Regions from separate parts of the Homo sapiens genome. Here region 2 is linked to region 1. The links come from fine-mapping of genetic effects on gene expression. A gene starts in region 1. The other region holds a variant in brackets. All regions are shown on one strand. Distances are between the middles of the regions.

Region 1 (9,342 bases):
CTCCTCTCCACGGATCATTCACATGAGTAAAGTCAGTAGCGTGCTGGTAAATGTTTAAGATCTTGTTCTTTGGGGGAAAAAGTTCCTAAGTTCTAGCAGTTGCCCTGGATAACTTCAAGGTATCAACATGGAAGTTATGTACAAAAATGGCTGTCACAAGCCAGTATGAGCTAACACCAACATACTACCCAGTGTTCTTCAAACTTCAGCTCACAGCCCATTAGTGGGGCTTGCAAACATTTTAGTGGACTATAAGCAGCATTTTTTTAAAATGAAAAAGTAGATTGTTTTACACATAACAGGAGTATTGTTTTGTACAATTTTTTTTTTTTTTTTTTTTTTTTTTTAGACACAGTTTCACTCTGTTGCCCAGGCTGGAGTACAGTGGTACAATCTCAGCTCACTGCAACCTCGGCCTTCTGGGTTCAAGCGATTCTCATGCCTCAGCCTCCCGAGTAGCTGAAATTACAGGCATGCGCCACAAGGCCCAGCTAATTATTGTATTTTTAGTAGAAACAGGGTTTCACCATATTGGCCAGGCTGGTCTCAAACTCCTGACCTCAAGTGATCCACCTGCCTCGGCTTCCCAAAGTGCTGGGATTACAGGAGTGAGCCAACGTGCCTGGTCAAAATTTTTGTTTTCGTAATTTTAAGTATGTGTGTAGTAAGTCTCAATGGAAATGTAATTCTTATGGCAGGTCACTTGAAAAAAAAGAAGTCTAAAAGTCACCAATGTAGTATCTTCTCTTTAAAAAAAAAAAAAAAACAACAGGAGAAAACCTGAATCTGCCCTTTGCTCCACTCCTTCCTCAGCTATAATGCTGCTTCTCCATTCCTCCTCACAGCAAACCTTTCTGAAATCTTTATAGTCATGGTTTCCACCAGTTCTTCACCTCCCATTTCTCAACACACTTCAGAGTCAGAGTCAGCAATGACATCCATGTTCCTAAGCCCATTGCTTACTTCCGTCCTCCTTGGCCTCTCAGCACACTTGGCACACAGGCTGTTTCTCTTTCTTTGGCATCTGTGACACCACTCTCAGCAAATTCCCCTGGTTGTCCCTTCTCAGTCTCATTTATTGGCGTTGTCTTATCTCCCCAGGGCTGTCCGAGGTGATTTTCTCCCACTACTCTCCTAGGTGGTGCCATCCAATCTCATGATGTCATATCATTCTTCCCTCATGCTTCAGCCATACTGGTTGGTGGCCTTTGTTTCCTGAACACATTTAATGCATTCTCAAGACCCTCAGGGACTTTGCAGCAGCTGCTCGCTAAGGCTGGAATGCTCTTCCCCACCATCTTCATATGGCTGTTTCCTTTCTTTCACTCACCAGCAGCTTAAACTTTGACTCCTCTGAGAGACTTTCCTTGTCACCCAACTAAGGTTGCCACTCAGGTGCTCCCAATTTAATCTTCTCTAAAACACATCACTGTATGTGTCCTCAACTAGAGTATAAGCTTCCTCGAAACAAGAACAATCAAAACTCCTTGCCCTCATGGAGTTTATAGTCTTATGATGGGTGAAGTAACATAAAATAAAAAGGCACCTTATATAGTATATTAGCATGACAAATGTTAGCCAGAAATAAAGCAAGGAAGAGTTGCTAGGGAGTGTGTATGAGTGTGTTTTGGGAGAGTGTTTGCAATTTTAAATATTGGTGGTCAGGAAGGGCCCCACTGAGAACTGACATTTGAGTAGACTTGAAAAGGGAAAAGGAAATATTGAGTAAAGATTTTAGGATGGGAGTGTGACAGGCCTGCTAGGAGAATAGCAAAGTCGCTGTGGCTGCTGCAGAAAAAGTGAGAAGGAAAGTAGTAGGAGATGAAATCACAGTGTGTGAGGATTCGGGCAGATCAGGAAGTGCTCGTGTAAGAACTGGATCTTTACTCAAAGAATGAGCAAAAATTAGTAGACGGTTGGCCGGATGCAGTGGCTCACACCTGCAATCCCAGGTTACAGGAGGCCGAGGCGGGCGGATCACTTGAGGTCAGGAGTTCAAGACTAGCCTGGGCAACATGGTGAAACCTCATCTCTACTAAAAATACAAAACTTAGCTGGGCATGGTGGCGCGCACCTGTAGTCCCAGCTACTCAGGAGGCTGAGGCACATGAATCACTTGAACACGGTAGGCAGAGGCTGCAGTGAGCTGAGAATGTAACACTGTACTCCACTCCAACCTGGGCAACAGAGTGAGACTGCCTCAAAAAAAAAAAAAAGTAGGTTTTAGTAAGGGATTAACATGATCTGAATTATGTTTTGTCATGACTTCTCTGGCTGTTGTGTTGAGACTACATTGCAGAGGGGCAAGGGCAAATATAGGGAGACCGATTAGGATACTGCAGTAATAATGTAAGAGATGTGGGACTCTATCTAGAAGGGCCCATGAGGTCCTTTGCATGCTAGTATTCTTTACTGCTGTGCCTGGCCATGATAGGCATTCAGTGAATATTTGCTTATTTAAAATAACACACTGGGCTAATTGAACAACAGTGCCAAATGAGGGAGATATTTCTAGGAATAAGTTCTTAGGATTTATGAACATTTTAATCCAGATTTTCTTTGTTAACTCTGCTCTCTGGCCCTTTCACTCAGCCCCGTTTGCACCTAAATATGACTTACAAAAGAAACACAGCATTTATGTGTACTTATTTCAACTTATTTTAGCTTTGTAAAGAAGTACAAGGTTGACTCAGGGCCCAGCTTGGTGTCTCATGCCTGTAATTTCAGCATTGTGGGAGGCCAAGGCAGGAAGATATTGTGAGCCCAGGAGTTTGAGACCAGCCTGGGCAACACAGTGGACCCTGTCTCTACAAAAAAAAATTTTTAAATTAGCTGGGCATAGTGGTGTGCGTCTATAGTCCCAGCTACTCCTGGGGCTGAGGTGGGAGGATCACTTGAGGGAAACCCTGTCTCAAAGTGGCGGGGCTGGGGGGAGACTCAGGCAGAATTGTGAAGATATTCAATTGCTCCTGACTTTATCAATAATCTAACATTTCAACCTAACATTGATATCTATTTTATGCAAAGCATTACACTATGCACTGGAGACTGTATAAGACAAGTTCCTTTTCTCAAACTACAGTCGAGTTGGATAGATAAAACACACAACACATACCAAAAGACAGCTATAAATCCAAGGCAGTGTATGTCAAGGGTAAATTCACCTATTCAGATTGGATCTTGAGAAGTGCATCAGGCTTGGAAAATGGGTAAGGAGGAGAGAAAAGCAACAGTGAATCAGAACATGAGTTCCCAGTTATGGGACTTGTAATGAATTCCTCAATTAAAACAAAAAATAATGAAAACAAAAGCCAGGGAGGAGAAAGCCCACGTTAATGACACTAAAATATATCTTTCCAAACAAATGTGGATAAAAGCCAAGTAGAGAAGATGAGAACTTTGAGGTCCCTAACAGAAAATAAACAGTAAGCAGCCAGCCATTCCAAGTGGCTGACATGACTTTGTTTAACTTTATTTGTATTTCTGGCTGGTGTGTTTACAGCCAATAGGTCAAACTATCAGTCAGTGTAGGGCCCTGAGAAGTCGGGTATTTAAGAGCATCTAATAGGCACAGAATTGTGCTCCATACTGCTTAAACTGTTCCCTAAGTGTCCAATTTGGAGAAAACACCCACACGCAGGATAACTGGCGAGTGACGCGGAGTGGCTGCGAGTCCAAGTTATCACTAACGGATGGGGAGCTTGGGCTGGGCACAGTCCAGCGTACTGAACCCTTCCCCCACCGTTTCACCTGCATACAGAGGTGTGTACTGTCAAAAAGCAGCGCCTCCAAGTCTCTTCTGGCACTGTCTGGACTTGGATCCGAGGCAGACGAGGAAGCTGAGAAAACCCTGGCGTTGACCCCGTGGACCTGGGCGCCCCGGGAAGGCCAGCGCTTGGTCCAGGCAGGCGGGGCCTGTGCGGTGACCACCCTGGTCCTGAAAAGTCCCAGCCCCGAGCGCCCTCCCTCCTAGACCTGGAGGCCTGGAACAGCCAGGTGGACGTCGGCCCACCTTTCTTTTCTTTCCTTCCCATTTTCCTACCACCTCCCACCCCACTCCGCCTTCCGGGCAAAGGCAGCCAGATCCACCCAGGACACATTCTTTGTCCTTATCCCTCTGTGCTCGTCCCACAGCAAGCCAGTCGCGGTCCAAGGCTCCAGAGGCTGTGCAGGAGGCCGAGCTGGGTGGCGATCAGCGGCGGGTCCCTGTCCAAAACCCAGCAGAGCCGCCAGGGACGCCCCAGACACAGAAGGCGGGGCGCGGGGAGGGTGGGGAGACCACAGCAGTGAGGCGCGCGAGCCGGGAAGTGAACGAGGACTGACTCCTGTCGCTTCCCGTAGCCGCCCACGGACGCCAGAGCCGGGAACCCTGACGGCACTTAGCTGCTGACAAACAACCTGCTCCGTGGAGCGCCTGAAACACCAGTCTTTGGGTGAGTCGCGCGACCCCCGGCCTCGGGTGGCGGGGCAGTCGCTAGAGGCGTGGCTGCTCTGAGGGTCTCGCCAGTGGAGGATGGCATTCGGATGTCACGGCTCCTAAATCACCATTTGATGGGTGGGACAGTGTCCAGTCCACCCCGACCCGCCGGTCCTCACCGCGGCAGAGCCGGGGCTGGGTGGCGGGGACGCTGCCTCTGCAGGCGAGGCGCTCCGGGGCATAAGGGATTATCAGGAGTCGCGGCCTTTCTTGGACATCCCTGGCTGGGGTCAGGCTGTTTGCCCTGGGGTGTCTCCTCGCTGCAAACCCACCCCACCTGGGCTGCTTTCTCACCTGTTCCCTCCTAGCCTGAGGCCGAGCGCCACCTCCAAGTGGAGGAATCTGGGGAAGTTTCCTTCCCGGAATTTGTAGTGACAGTGGAGTGACCTCCATTGCGTTCCCTGCCTCTAACACGCTCTTTAGGATGCCGAGTCATTTGACTGCAGTGTTAAACATTGCAAAGCGCAAGTCATGTGACTTCCTTTGACCGTACGTGAAACTTAAGTGATGGCTGCTTGTGATGCATACGAAGTGTTCATGCTGGCGGGACCTGTCCCTGGGGATACTTCGGGGGTTGCGTGATTTAATGCAAGCAGATGGCTTAAATTGGGTCACTGGCTTGTTATTATACATGTGTATGGCAACTCGGCATCCATTCTTTTTGCTCTTGTTCTTACTTCCTGAATTGAGTCACGGAGCCAGAGTTTTGAGGTTTTGACTAACGAATTAAGTTAATGACATGGGGCTATATTTAGGTGGTAAACCAAGAGGGATACAGTTTTTTTTCTTAATAAAGAAAAAGTGATAGATTTGATCGGTGTGTATTGTTGGTGTGCAGTATAATGACAGAATTGCTGGAAGTAAAATACAGGAAGCTCTGGTTTCATTTCCCCTTTAGTTCTGCTTAAAGTCGAGTTTTTCCTGGAGCTATTAAATGTAGTGTAGTGTCCATGAGTGCTTTTATCTTAAAAAATGTGGCTGATGCTTTCCAACACTCCCCTGCCCTGTGATTATTATTTTTTTAAGCAACAGAGAAAACCGTATCTTAATAGTATTAAAAGTATTGGATTTTTCCCTACTTTGATTTGTTTAAATTGGAGGAGGAAGAGCAATTCTTTCTATTCACAATAATAATAGCTAACATAGCGCTTACTCTTTCGCTGTTTTATTAACTCAATCCTCAGAACAAACCAATGATGTGAATACTGTAATTCTCATTTTATGGAAATGAAAATCTAAATGAATACCTCTGGTAATTGTACGGGACTGTTTGATTAGTATTTACCATTAATTAATTAAATTTTTTTTTTTTTTTGAGATGGAGTCTCGTTCTGTTGCCCAGGCTGGAGTGCAGTGGCACAATCTCGGCTCACTTCAACCTCCGTCTCCCAGGTTCAAGCAATTCTCCTGTCTCAGCCTCCTGAGTAGCTGGGACTACAGGTGCATGCCACTACGTCTGGCTAATTTTTGTATTTTTAGTAGGGATGGGATTTCACCATATTGGTCAGGCTGGTCTCTAACTCCTGAACCTCAGGTGATCCACCCGCCTTGGCCTCCCAAAGTGCTGGGATTACAGGTGTGAGCCACCATGCCTGGCCTATTTTAGTATTTTTAATAATAAATTCCATGTTAGAAATTTTCTACTGATGTATTTTTTAAGTCAATATTTCCTACACTCACAATCCAAAATTATTTAGTATATGAGCACACTGGTAAGAATGGGAGGCAGATCGTTGATTGTAATAATATTCTATTATTTGGTAAATATCAGTAACATAATATATAATTTAAATTTTAAAATAGGATATGAAGAAAAATGCTACATGCTTACTTTTCTTTTCCTCTATTTTTACTTTACACAGGGCCAGTGCCTCAGTTTCAATCCAGGTAACCTTTAAATGAAACTTGCCTAAAATCTTAGGTCATACACAGAAGAGACTCCAATCGACAAGAAGCTGGAAAAGAATGATGTTGTCCTTAAACAACCTACAGAATATCATCTATAACCCGGTAACTGATTTCTATAAGATAACTTTTTACCTATGCCAGGACAGATCCAATAGAATATTAATTATCCATTGGGAGACAGGGCAAGAATAAAAGCCAGTGAACATATTTAAAGCACCTACTATGTAATAGAGATGGTGGTGGGTGCTGATTACAAAACAGCTCTTGTCCTCTAGTGGAGGAAGAAGTCACAATGATAATATGACGTGATGAAACAGTGTTATGAACAGGGAACGTCTGGGTAGAGTGGAGGGAATGCCAACTTTTGGTGATGGGAGGAGGCTCAGCTAATCATAAATTGTAGTTTTTAAAGGAAAATGGATTTCTTACTCTACAAGTTTTTCATTTTCTTTTTTAATTAGAGCTGTCCATGAGAAGTTAATGTCTCGATCTTTCCCTCAGCCTTTCAAATACTGCTTGGCCCTTGAGCAGGGAAAATGTCAAAAGCCAATGGGGAGATGGAGAGTGTGAAGTAGTAAGGGTCTCGTGCAGTTCAGGCAGGTCCTAGAATCCCTGAATGACTGTAATTGCTGGAAATTGCCCTGTAATCCTGAGCAGTAAAGAGCTTGTTTTAGTTTTATGTGGTGGTGAGAATCTTTAGGAATGTCTAGTTTCCACGTATCTGAAGCTGAATCCTGAATCGAGGTCTGAAAAAGGACAGCCACTTTTTTAGTAAACCGCCTAGAAGATTCTTGGGCAAAAGGAAGGGTGAGAATCCTTAAAATGAGGCCCTAAACCAGTTTTGTTAGTGTGTGTGGGTTCAAGTTTTTGTCATTTACTTTATAGCTGTATTTCCTTTTTCCCTAAGTTTTAATGTCATTGTGTAAGAATGAGGTATCGCTGCTGTATCAAGCAAAGTCAGTTTTAGGAGAAATAGCCTTTCAGTGGTAGTAAGTTTAAAAAAGATGACTTCCTGAAGCGGAAGCTTGTGAGACATTTAAGATGACTTTGCGCATGTTAGAGTTAAAAACATCCCAAGGTTGTAAACTGATTTCCTGCAAAGATCTTAACAACAACAACAACAACAAACTAGGCTGCCTGCCACGGGTGTCTGAAGTATCATCTTGGCTCAAGCTGGGAGAATGGATAAAGGTTACACTGTTCATTTCTGCCCTTCACACAGAAAAGAAGATAATTTTATAGGTAAAATTCGTGCATATCTTGATTCTAGCATACTGCTGATTCCTGTAGTTTCTGGGGTCAGTACTCTCAACTATTGAGGTGGAACAAAAATAAGTAGACTTCATTTCTTGAGGAAGGGGATCTGGAGAAGTAGTTCTGCGCTAGAGCAGAAAATGCCTTCAGTCTTGTGGCATGGGCTGGATGCTGTTCTGAGGATAATGCATTTCCAAGGGAGATATTTTTGGCAAATAGCTTTTTTTTCTTTCTTTTCAAAATTCTCTGTTTTATTATCAGTTCTCACAAAAGAGTCGGAAAGGTTAGAGGTAGACTGAACTGAATGGCAAAAACATTTTGCGCTCTCTTTACGTTTCACTGCTGTAAAATATTTATAGTATAAAGGGCCTGTATTGCACTGAATTTCTCTCATTTGTAGCTAGTTGCCCTTTCAATGTTCCAAAAAAAAAGGCTGTAAATAACTTATTTTATTTATTCAATTAATTTTTTTTTTTTAATTTTTTGAGATATAGTTTCCCTCTGGTCACCCAGGCTGGAGTGAAATGATGCAATCTCGGCTTACTGCAATTTCTGCCTCCCGGGTTCAAGCAATTCTAGTGCCTCAGCCTCCTGAGTAGCTGGGACTGCAGGCACGTGCTACCATGCCCGGCTAATTTTTGTGTTTTTAGTAGATATGGGGTTTCACAGTGTTGGCCAGCCTAGTCTCAAACTCCTGACCTCAGGTGATGTGCCCACCTTGACCTCCAAAAGTGCTGGGATTACAGGCGTGAGGCACCATGCCTGGCCAACTTAGTTATTTAAAGATAATCAATTAGTATATTTTATAAGCTAGACTTAGGAAAACGGTTTTCAGCTGGGCATGGTGGCTCACACCTGTAATCCCAGCACTTTGGGAGGCCGAGGCAGGTGGATCACGAGGTCAGGAGTTCAAGACCAGCCTGGCCAAGATGGCGAAACTCCGTCTCTACTTAAAAATACAAAAATTAGCCAGGCGTGATGGCAGCCTCCTGTAATCCCAGCTACTCGGGAGGCTGAGGCAAGAGAATCACTTGAACCTGGGAGGCGGAGGTTGCAGTGAGCCGAGATGGTGCCACTGCACTCCAGCCTGGGTGACAGAGCGAGACTCCATCTCAAAAAAAAAAAAACCCCCCCACACACAAAACCTGTTTTCTTGAATCATGGTTGTTTTGTTACTGATAGGTTCAATAAGTAAATATATTTATTGTCTGTTGTATTCTTTATTAGGCATTATAAACACACCGCCACTTTTTAATTTTTATTTCATTAATGTTTCCAATTTTTTTTTTTTTTTTTTTTTTTAAGACAGAGGCTCGCTCTGTCATCCAGGCTGGAGTGGAGTGGTGCAGTCTTACCCCACTGCAACCTCCACCTCCTGGGCTCAGCCTTGTAAATAGCTGGGACTACAGGCATGCACCACCATGCCTGGCTAATTTTTGTATTTTTTTTGGTAAAGACAGAGTTTTGCCATGTTTCTCAGTCTGGTCAAGCACTCCTCCCGCCTCGGCCTCCCAAAGTGTTGGGATTACAGGCATGAGCCACCATGCCTGGCCTATTTCTAATATTTTGGTCCACATTGGTGTTAGACCAACTGTCCACATTAAGTTTTCTTGGAAAAGATGAAGTAAATATTGCAACTGGCCTATGTATTTTTTTCCCTATTTAGTATATTTCTTTGACTAGTTCAACTGATAGAATTCCAA
Region 2 (9,342 bases), 110 kb after region 1:
TTGATCCTAGGTGACTAAGGCAGAAATAAATAGAATGTGTAGGACTCCTCTGGTGTAAAAAGTCATGGGTTCCAAAAGTTCATTTATAAGTCAATTGTTTGGACATCCTGAACTTATTTTCAGAACACGATTGGGCACAGCTAGTTAACTGCAGGGAGGCCTGAGGAGACTGGAAGGTGCCAGAACCTGGAACCAGATCTGCCCACTAGGACAGGACCAGCCCTGGAAGGACAGGAGCAGGTGCACTGGATTCTAAAGGTGTTCAGTGCAGCCGGCAGGGGACATTGCCCTGAAGGCAAGATTACAGGCAGCAGTCAGCATTAGAGAGGGCCCAGAGGAAATGGGGAGACCCTATTGGGAAGCAGAGTCTAGCAACTGGCAATGTAGGAGTAGTGATGGGCTGTTTACCAAAAACATCATTAGTGCAATAGTAACTGCAAAACAGAGAAAATATTTGTAATTCATATGTATCTGACAAATGACTCATATGCAGAATATTTAAGGAACTGCTTCAAATCAAAAAGAAAAAATAGACATTCAATAGAAAAAAATAACAAAAGACTTGAACAAGCACTTTTAAAGAGACAATATCTGAATGTGTCTAATAAACATATAAGTATGTTCTCCACAGCATTTGTAACCAGTCAAATGAAAGCCACAGTGAGATTTCACTACACACCCACCAGAATGGCTAATATTAAAAAGACAGGCAATACCAAATGTTGGTAAAGATGTGGAACAACTGACATTTTGTTATACTGCTGGTGGAAGTACAAATTGGTACAAATATTCTGTAAAATTATTGTTTTCTCATTACTGAAACTCTCAGGTATGCTATATACTCAACAGAAATGTTGAGAAATGTGTGCGTACGAACACCGAAAGGCATGTTTGAGAATGTCCATAGCAGCATATTTTGTAATAGCATAATCTGCTTCCGATGCAGATGTTTATCAACAGAAGAATAAACATATACATTGTGAAACTGTCATACAGTGGAATACTATTCAGCAATGAGAACAAACAAACCATTGCAACGCACAGCAATATGACAGACTCTTACAAGCCTAATATCAAGCAATAGATGTCAGATGCAAAGGAATACAAATAGCACGATTCTATCTATATAAAATTCAAACCCAGTAAGAATTAATCTATAATGAAGGGAATAATTTGTGCAGCAGAGATAGGTAGTTACTGGGAGGAGGCATAAGGGTTTCTGGGGTCACGGGAATGTTCTGTTTCTTGATTTGGGCAGTAAATACACAGGTATGTTCATTTTGTGAAAACCATCAGGCTATAAACTATATATACTTTTCTGTATGTATGCTGTATTATAGTAGAATATGCACTTAATTTTTTTAAAAGGCAAGAAGTCATGGGATCAGCAGTACGAAGCATCTTGGCATGTAGCATGACCCAAAATCCAAGCAGGGGTCAGGAGTTAGAAGCCACTTCAGGTAAGGGAGACTGATGAGAGTTATGCAATACCACAACCCAGGAAGAGTTTGGGAGTTACATAGACAGGTTTTAGCCCAGACCATCTGAGCTGGTCGGGCTCAGTCTGCCACTTACTACCATGAGCCACCTAACCAACCTCTCTGGATCTCAGTTTTCTCATTTGCAAAATGAAGGTAATATGAAACTCTCCAGGTTTGCTTGGTACAGAGAACAAGTTTAACAAATATTTGCTATTAATAATAATAGTCATTTTACCTCAGCAGGTGCAAGAAGGAGATTTAGTTACTGCCCCTGCAGTATAGAGTTCAAGCTTTGGGTCTCAGGAACAATATAGAAACCCGCTAATGTGAACCAGGGGTCAAAGTCAGAGCTGAACACATATTAAAAGGCACTCAAGTGACTTCCTGAGTCCTGGGCTAGAAATGTTCAAAATTCTGTAGGACAAATCTGCATCACGCGAGGAGAGAGAAGAGATGCAGAGAGTGGGCTGGACCCGACAGAGTAGTTTGTCCCACAAATATGACTGCTGACAATTTCTCCTATCTGTGCATACTCCAGGAGATGGAGTCTAGTTTCCCCCTCCTTGAAAGAATGTTGGCCCTGGGAGGCACTTTGAACAGTAGAGTGAAAATAGCAATGATGCTATCTATACCTGGCAGTTTTTGCTTTGCTTCCTTGGAAACTGGTGGTCATACTGTAAGGAAGTCCATGCTATTCTGCTGGAAAAAGAGGCCACGTGGAGAGGACATGGAGGATGTAATACCACATGGAGAGAGAGGCCATGAGGAGGAGAAACAAGGCACCCCTGCTGAAGATTGAATCAAGGTCCCAGATGTATGAGAGAGACCTTTCTTCCAGAAAAGCCCAGCCACCTGCTGAATTCAGTCACGTGGGTGAGCCTTGGCCAACAACTGGTAGAGTGGAAGAGTTGCCCACTCAACCCCACAGAACTGTGAGAAAAAATAAGTGATTTTTGTTTTAAGTTCTGGATTGGTTTGTTATGCATTGATAGATAACTGATACTGCTTTGGGAGACTGAGGCAGGAAGGATCACTTGAGCCCAGGAGTTCGAGATCAGACTGGGGAACAAAAATAAATAAATAAATTAGCTTGGCATGGTGGTGCACACCTGTACTTGGGAGACTGAGGTGGGAGGGTCACTTGAGTCCAGGAGTTTGAGGTTACAGTGAGCTATGATCATGCCTCTGCACTCCAGCTGATTGAGTGAGACACTATCTCTTGAAAAAATAATGGCAGCTGGTACCAAAATGGGTACCCCAAAGTTGGGTGCTGTCATATAACAAAAACCTAATATGTGTGTCATTGGCTATAGGATCAGGGAGATGGAGGCCAGAGAAGTGATAGGAATACAGAAGTGGAGGCTGGAAGAACAATGAAGAAACTCCATGGGAAGCTGGAGGAAGGGCCACAAGCGCTATAGGTGGCACTAAGTTAACATGCTAAGTTAAACATGGGCCCGTGTACTTGTGGGTTTGCCAAGGAGATTTTCCAGCAAATTATGAAAAGTGCCAATTCATTTATCTTAACTCACTGCCTGTGATAAGGTAAGGGAAGAGAGAGATGAGCTAAAGAAGGAACTGTGCAGTTTTCAAGCAAACGTTAGAGGATGTATTTCCAACCCAGGATTTATTGGTTTGGAAAATAAAACCACTTTCTCATTCTCAGCATCTCCAGCTGGAAAAAGGTTTTATTGTTTGTTTGCTTTTTTTTTTTTTTTTTTTTTTTTGAGACAGAGTCTTGCTCTGTCATCCAGGCTGGAGCGCAGTGGCGTGATTTTGGCTCACTACAACCTCCACCTCCCCAGTTCAAGCAATTTTTGTGCCTCAGCCTCCCGAGTAGCTGGCATTATAGGCACATACCACCAGGCCCTGCTAATTTTTGTATTTGTAGTAGAGACGGGGTTTCACCATGTTGGCCAGGCTGGTCTGGAGCTCCTGACCTCATGCGATTGCCTGCCTCGGCCTCCCACAGTGCTGGGATTACAGGCGTGAGCCACCCACTGCACTGGGCCCTGAAAAAAGATTCTTGAAGTAAGAAATAGTCTCGGGGAAAAGATCAAATCCAGGATGCGACTAGTGTAACAGGGCCTTGGAGCAAGATTAAAACAAAGTGTCCCTATAAGACTCTTTGTCAAGGTCACATAAAAATTTAAAGTGGCTTCACAGATCCTTTCTCCTATGCTTCTGAGAAC[C/T]TTTGGAACATTGTTCCACAGTACCCTGACTTGTAGCCCTAAGTGGAAAGGAGCTTATCTTGAAGATAATTGTGATTGTGGCTTTTGTTTATGGAAATGGATTGGAATTTGATAAAAGACTTTAAAGGAGTTGTACCAAGTTGGACTCAAGGGAAGCAGAAAGAGTTCAAAATGCAAAGAGACTTTGGGACTCCCGCTCCCTTTGGTCAAAAGCAGAACCAGGTGCAAACATTACTCAGTCACTATGGAAAGGGGCAGCAACACAGGGCAGACTCAAGAGCTCAGATGGTGGAACCAAGAACAATGGAGAATACTAGATCAGGAAACCGAAGCCAGAGAGCAGTAACCTGTAAACAAGGACCCTAAGCGAGGAGCTTTCTGTGTCTTCCTGCCCTTGACTCTGGAGTCAAGGGAACTCATGATACGTGTTTGGTTGATTTCCTAACTGCTATGAAACAGTCACTGCTATGGACCAGAGATAGCAGCTACCCCTGTCTCACCCTTAGATGTTGGGTGGAGGAGAGGTAGATACTCAGGTAATTCGCAGGTATCGAGAGCCAGAGGCCTCACCTTTGAGGAGACTTTTCTACATTTGGACCTGATGCAGATCACAAGAAACTGGACTTCAACTCATGCGCCATAATTGGATGAGTCTTTGAGAAGTATTGGGAGAGGAGTTTATTTTGACTAATAGTGAGTAATAGGTGTAGTAGAAGTGACATTCTAGGACTTCTGTTCCCAGACATTGTAGCTTCTGTTTTCATCTTTTTGCATTCCAGTTGCCGTGAAAAGGAGTTCAGGATAGACTACGAAATCACGAGAAACCACACAGAAGTGGAAGGCCCAGTGAGCCTCCAGCCATTGCAGCCACCTTGGCTGAGGTGCCAGGTATGTTAGGGAAGCTGTCTTTGCTGTTCCAGCCCCAGTGAAGCTGCCAGCTGAATGTAGCTGCAAGTATGACCTCAGTCAACACTGCGAGAAGCAGAGTCAAGGTATCCCCACCAAGTCCTGAGCAACTGCAAAATCATGAGTAAATAAATGGGGACAGTTGTTTCAAATCACTAATTTTGGGGGTGATTTTTATACAGCAAAGGATAACTGACACTAGCCAGCACACAGAAGATGATGAAGTTTTCATGTTCCACATTACAATTCACAATCCTAAAAGATCTGTTCTCCTGCCTGCTATTTTTACCTCATCTGGTGTTCCCTGAACCAGCTTGGGGTTTCATAACAAAATACCATAGACTGGGTGGCTTAAACACAGAATTTTACTTTCTCACAGTTCTAGAGGCTGGAAAGTCCAATATTAAGTTTCCAGCAATGGTTGGTTTCTTCCTGCTGGCCACTCCCTGATGTCCTTTCTTTTTCTTTCTTTCTCTTTCTTTCTTCTTTCTTTCTTTCTTTCTTTCTTTCTTTCTTTCTTTCTTTCTTTCTTTCTTTCTTTCTTTCTTTCCTGCTTTCTTTCTTTCTTTCTTTTCTTTCTTCTTTCTTTCTTTCCTTCTTTCTTTCTTTCTTCCTTTCTTTTTCTTTCTTTCTCTTTCTCTCTCTTTCCTTCTTTCTTTCTTTCTTTCTTTCCCCTCCCCTGGCCTCCCCTCCCCTCCCCTTCCTTCCTTCTTTCTTCTTTCTTTCTTTCCTTCTTTCCTTCTTCCTTCCTTCCTTCCTTCCTCTCTCTCTCTCTCTCTCTCTTTCTTTCTGTCTTTCTTTCTTTCTTTCTTTCTTTCTTTCTTTCTTTCTTTCTTTCTTTCTTTCTTTCTTTCTTTCTTTCTTTCTTTCTTTCTCTTTCTTTTTCTTTCAGACAGAGTCACACTCCAGCCTGGGCGACAGAGTGAGACTCCACCATGCCCAGCCCTGATGTCTTTTCTTATAAGGGCACTAATTGCATCATGAAAGCCCCACCCTCAGGCCAAGTGCGGTGGCTCACACCTGTAATCTCAGCACTTTGGGAGGCCGAGGTGGGAGGATCACAAGGTCAGGAGTTCAAGACCAGCCTGGCTAATATGGTGACACCCTGTCTCTACTAAAAATACAAAAATTAGCCGAGCGTGGTGGTGCACACCTGTAGTCCCAGCTACTTGGGAGGCTGAGGCAGAAGAATCGTTTGAACCCGGGAGGCGGAGGTTGCAGTGAGCCAAGATCGTGCCACTGCACTCCAGCCTGGGCAACAGAGCGAGACTCTGTCTCAAAAACAAACAAACAAAAAAACAAGAGCCCCACTCTCATGACGTCATCTAAGCCTAAGCACCTCCCAAAGCTCCCATCTCTAAATACCATCACATTGGAGGTTAAGGCTTCAACATATGAATTTTGGGTTGGATACAATTCACTCCATAACATTCCCTTTCTTACTTTTGTCCAGTAACATTGACTCTTCTGTTTCTCAAACATGACAATCTTGTTCATACCTTGGGCTGTGCAATTGCCGTTCCCCCTCTAGAATATGGTGCCTCCCAGATATTCACTGGCTCCTGATTATCCAGCCTCAGAGTAAATCCTACTAATATTTCCTTGGAATGGCCTTCTGTCACCACTCAATGGGAAGTATGTCACCTAAACACTCTATCACATCACCCTGTAGTACTTCGATCACAGAATTTGAGACTCTCTGAAATAATCTTATTCATTTATTTGTTTGCTTGCTTGTTTGTCCATCCCCCACCTGCAGTGTCCGTGACTGTGGGTACCTTGTCACTCTTACAGCTGTATCTGTGGTATCTAGAATAGTTCCCAGCACATGGTAGGTATACTTTTTTTTAATTTAATGAATAATCTACAACATGCCTATATTGTGGAACTGATAAATGATGTCATATACTTACCTCTATTCATCAAACACTTATTTTACCAAACACTAGTTCACTAGGAATTTAAAATGAAGCAGACATGTCCTTTGACTTTCCAATAACTCCCTGTGGATGTATATTGTGCATAGAGGAGGGAAGAGCATAAACAAAAACTTTCCTACTGTGGGATAAATGCACTAATAGGAGGGTACATGAGAAGTATGGAAACGCGGGCTTGGGGTGCAGTGAATTCTACCTGGAGGGAGAGGGAGAAGCAGGTCCTGGAGAGCCACAAAGGACATTTTAGCTACTCCTTGAAGAATGAGTTTCTAGCAAATGGGTAAGGAGGTGAAGGGCAAGGATTGCACACAAAAGAAATAGCATAGTGGAAGAAATGCAAGTGCCCACTGACAGGTGAATGGATGAACAAAATATGGCACAGTTGTCCCTAGGTATCTGCAGAGAAATGGTCCCAAGACCCACATGGATACTGAAGTCCACAGATGCTCAAGTCCTTTATACAAAGTGGTGTAGTATTTGCAGGCCAGGCACTGTGGCTCATGCCTGTAATCCCAGCACTTTGGGAGGCCAAGGTGGGCAGATCACCAGAGGTCAGGGGTTCGAGACAAACCTGGCCAACATGCCGAAACCCCGTCTCTACTAAAAATACAAAAATTAGCCAGGTGTGGTAGTGCATGCCTATAGTCACAGCTACTCAGGAGGCTGAGACAGGAGAATCACTTGAACCCAGAAGGTGGAGGTTTCAGCCTGGGCGACAGAGCGAGACTCCATCTCAAAAAGAAAAAAAAGGTTACGATGGTAACTTTTTTGTTATATGTATTTTACCACAATTAAAAAGTTGAAAAATAACAGAACTAGCATGAACAAAAATATAAATGGTGTAGTGGCCTGGATGCAGGGAGGGCACAAGAAGGAGAGAGAGCAGGAGATGTGGCTGGAGGGAAGAACAGAGCTGGGTTGTAACGGGCCTATGTATCATCATAAATTTGCACTTTATTCAATAGCTATTGTGGAAATGGGAGCAAAACCCACTTTGACAGAGTCCTAACTCTGGACGTGGAGGACCTATGTCTCCACAGCTGCAGTCCTACAACCCAGATTACAAACTTCCCAGGTCTATACCACCAGTAAGGATCCTATGGCCAGGGGCAGAGGTTATTGAGCCTTGGAGGCTGGGAAGAGGTAGGAAGCAAGGATTGGGGATCCTAAAGAGGAAAGGACTAGGGAAGAAGCTGTTGGAATGGAGAGGGTATGGGAACCGATGGGGCAGGGCGAAGGGTATGTTGATCCCTTCGTGTAGCTCAGAGGGTCAGGAGCAGGGAGGGCAGCTCAGGGCTCCACTGTCTTCAGATCAATCATTTTCCCATCTCCCTCCTACTCTCCTCACCACGGACATGCTGGGGGAGTGAGGTGGTAGGGACAGGAGGGAGACGCAGTGGCGGAAACCAAGACGAGGGTCTTTCCATCCTTCTCTTTCGTCCATACTCAAAACTATGGACTAGTATTGGGGTGAAAGGAGCAGTGGGAATGGAGTGAGGAGGAGGAGATGGAAAGTCTCTCTCTCTCTCTCTCTCTTAGTCTCTCTCTCTCTCTCTTAGTCTCTTTCTCTCTCCTCCCTTCTTCCACTGAAGGTCCTATTTCCATCAGATACTGATACTAGAACTGCGAAGGGTGGTGGGGGTGGTAATGTGGTAGATAGACCCGGCTAGACTCAGACATGATATTACGCAGTGATGCTTCTGCAACAGCCAAGGAACAAGGGAAGAAGAGGGAAAGCATGCATGTGTGCATGCGTGTGTGTTTGTGTGTGTGTGTACACCTCCAGTGTTACAGAGTGAGGCAAAGGGAATCCCTGTAATCACCCGGCTGTGGACAAGATAAGTGACCAGCATAAATAAACATACTGCAGTCAGTACGTGACAGGAGCCTCCTCGCCCATGGAGGCATGACACACAGCAAGGCAGGTGGCCTGGCATATAGTTTGTTCTATCTACCAAGGTGACTCCCTAGGCTCGGTGCCAAGTGCCGAAGAACCCTACAAGAGTGCTATTGGTCTTTGGTGGAAAGAATAGCTACCACAAGGCAAGGCCAAGACAGAGTCGATTGGAGAAAAGCAGGCTAGTCCTTTGCTGGTAAGCTTGCCTTTTTAACTTTTTTTTTTTTTCTTTGAGAGGGGGTCTCACTCTGTCGCCCAGGCTGGAGTGCAGTGGCATGATCTCGGCTCACTGCAACCTCTTCCTCCCAGGCTCACGTGATCTCCCGTTTCAGCCACCCAAGTAGCTGGGACTACAGGCACACACCCCCATACCCAGCTAATTTTCTGTATTTTTAGTAGAGACAGGGTTTTGCCATGTTGCCCAGGCTGGCCGCAAACTCCTGAGCTCAAGCAATCTGCCTGCCTCGGCCTCCCAGAGTGCTAGGATTACAGGTGTGAGCCACAGTGCCCAGCCTTAATTTTTTTTTAATCAAGAATATTTGAGAAAATATTTCAAATTTGCCTTTAAGCCTTTTGCTGAACTTCAAGAAAAGTTCTACCTCTATGCATAACTTTTCCAAAACAACGCAAACCAAAAAGATTTTGAGTGGCACATTTGCCTTCTTCACCAAAGCCCCGTTCCATCATTATTAGAAGTAACTGTTTAAATTCAATTTTTGGCAGGGCGCGGTGGCTCACGCCTGTAATCCCAGCACTTTACGAGGTCGAGGCGGATGGATCACCTGAGGTCAGGAATTCGAGACCAGACAGACCAACATAGTGAAATCCCGTCTCTACTGAAAATACAAAAATTAGCCGGGTGTGGGTGGCAGGCTCCTGTAAGTCCCAGCTACTCAGGAGGTTGAGACAGGAGAATCGCTTGAACCTGG

The links.
Region 2: its variant is fine-mapped to the expression of LGALS8 in whole blood (TOPMed, PIP 0.97).

Annotation. Positions count from the first base shown.
Region 1 is chr1:236,519,629-236,528,970 of GRCh38, forward strand. LGALS8 (galectin 8) reads left to right here and starts at 4,354. Exons shown (of 10, transcript NM_201544.4): 1 at 4,354-4,433; 2 at 6,340-6,487. The coding sequence starts at 6,443. It overlaps LGALS8-AS1 (LGALS8 antisense RNA 1), which reads right to left and starts at 4,880. Exons shown (of 1, transcript NR_034040.1): 1 at 3,441-4,880. RefSeq lists a silencer at 4,647-4,696.
Region 2 is chr1:236,627,789-236,637,130 of GRCh38, forward strand. No RefSeq gene overlaps it. Among named protein-coding and RNA genes, the nearest start is that of HEATR1, 28 kb to the left of the region's middle. The variant C/T (reference allele first, on the strand shown) is at 3,674.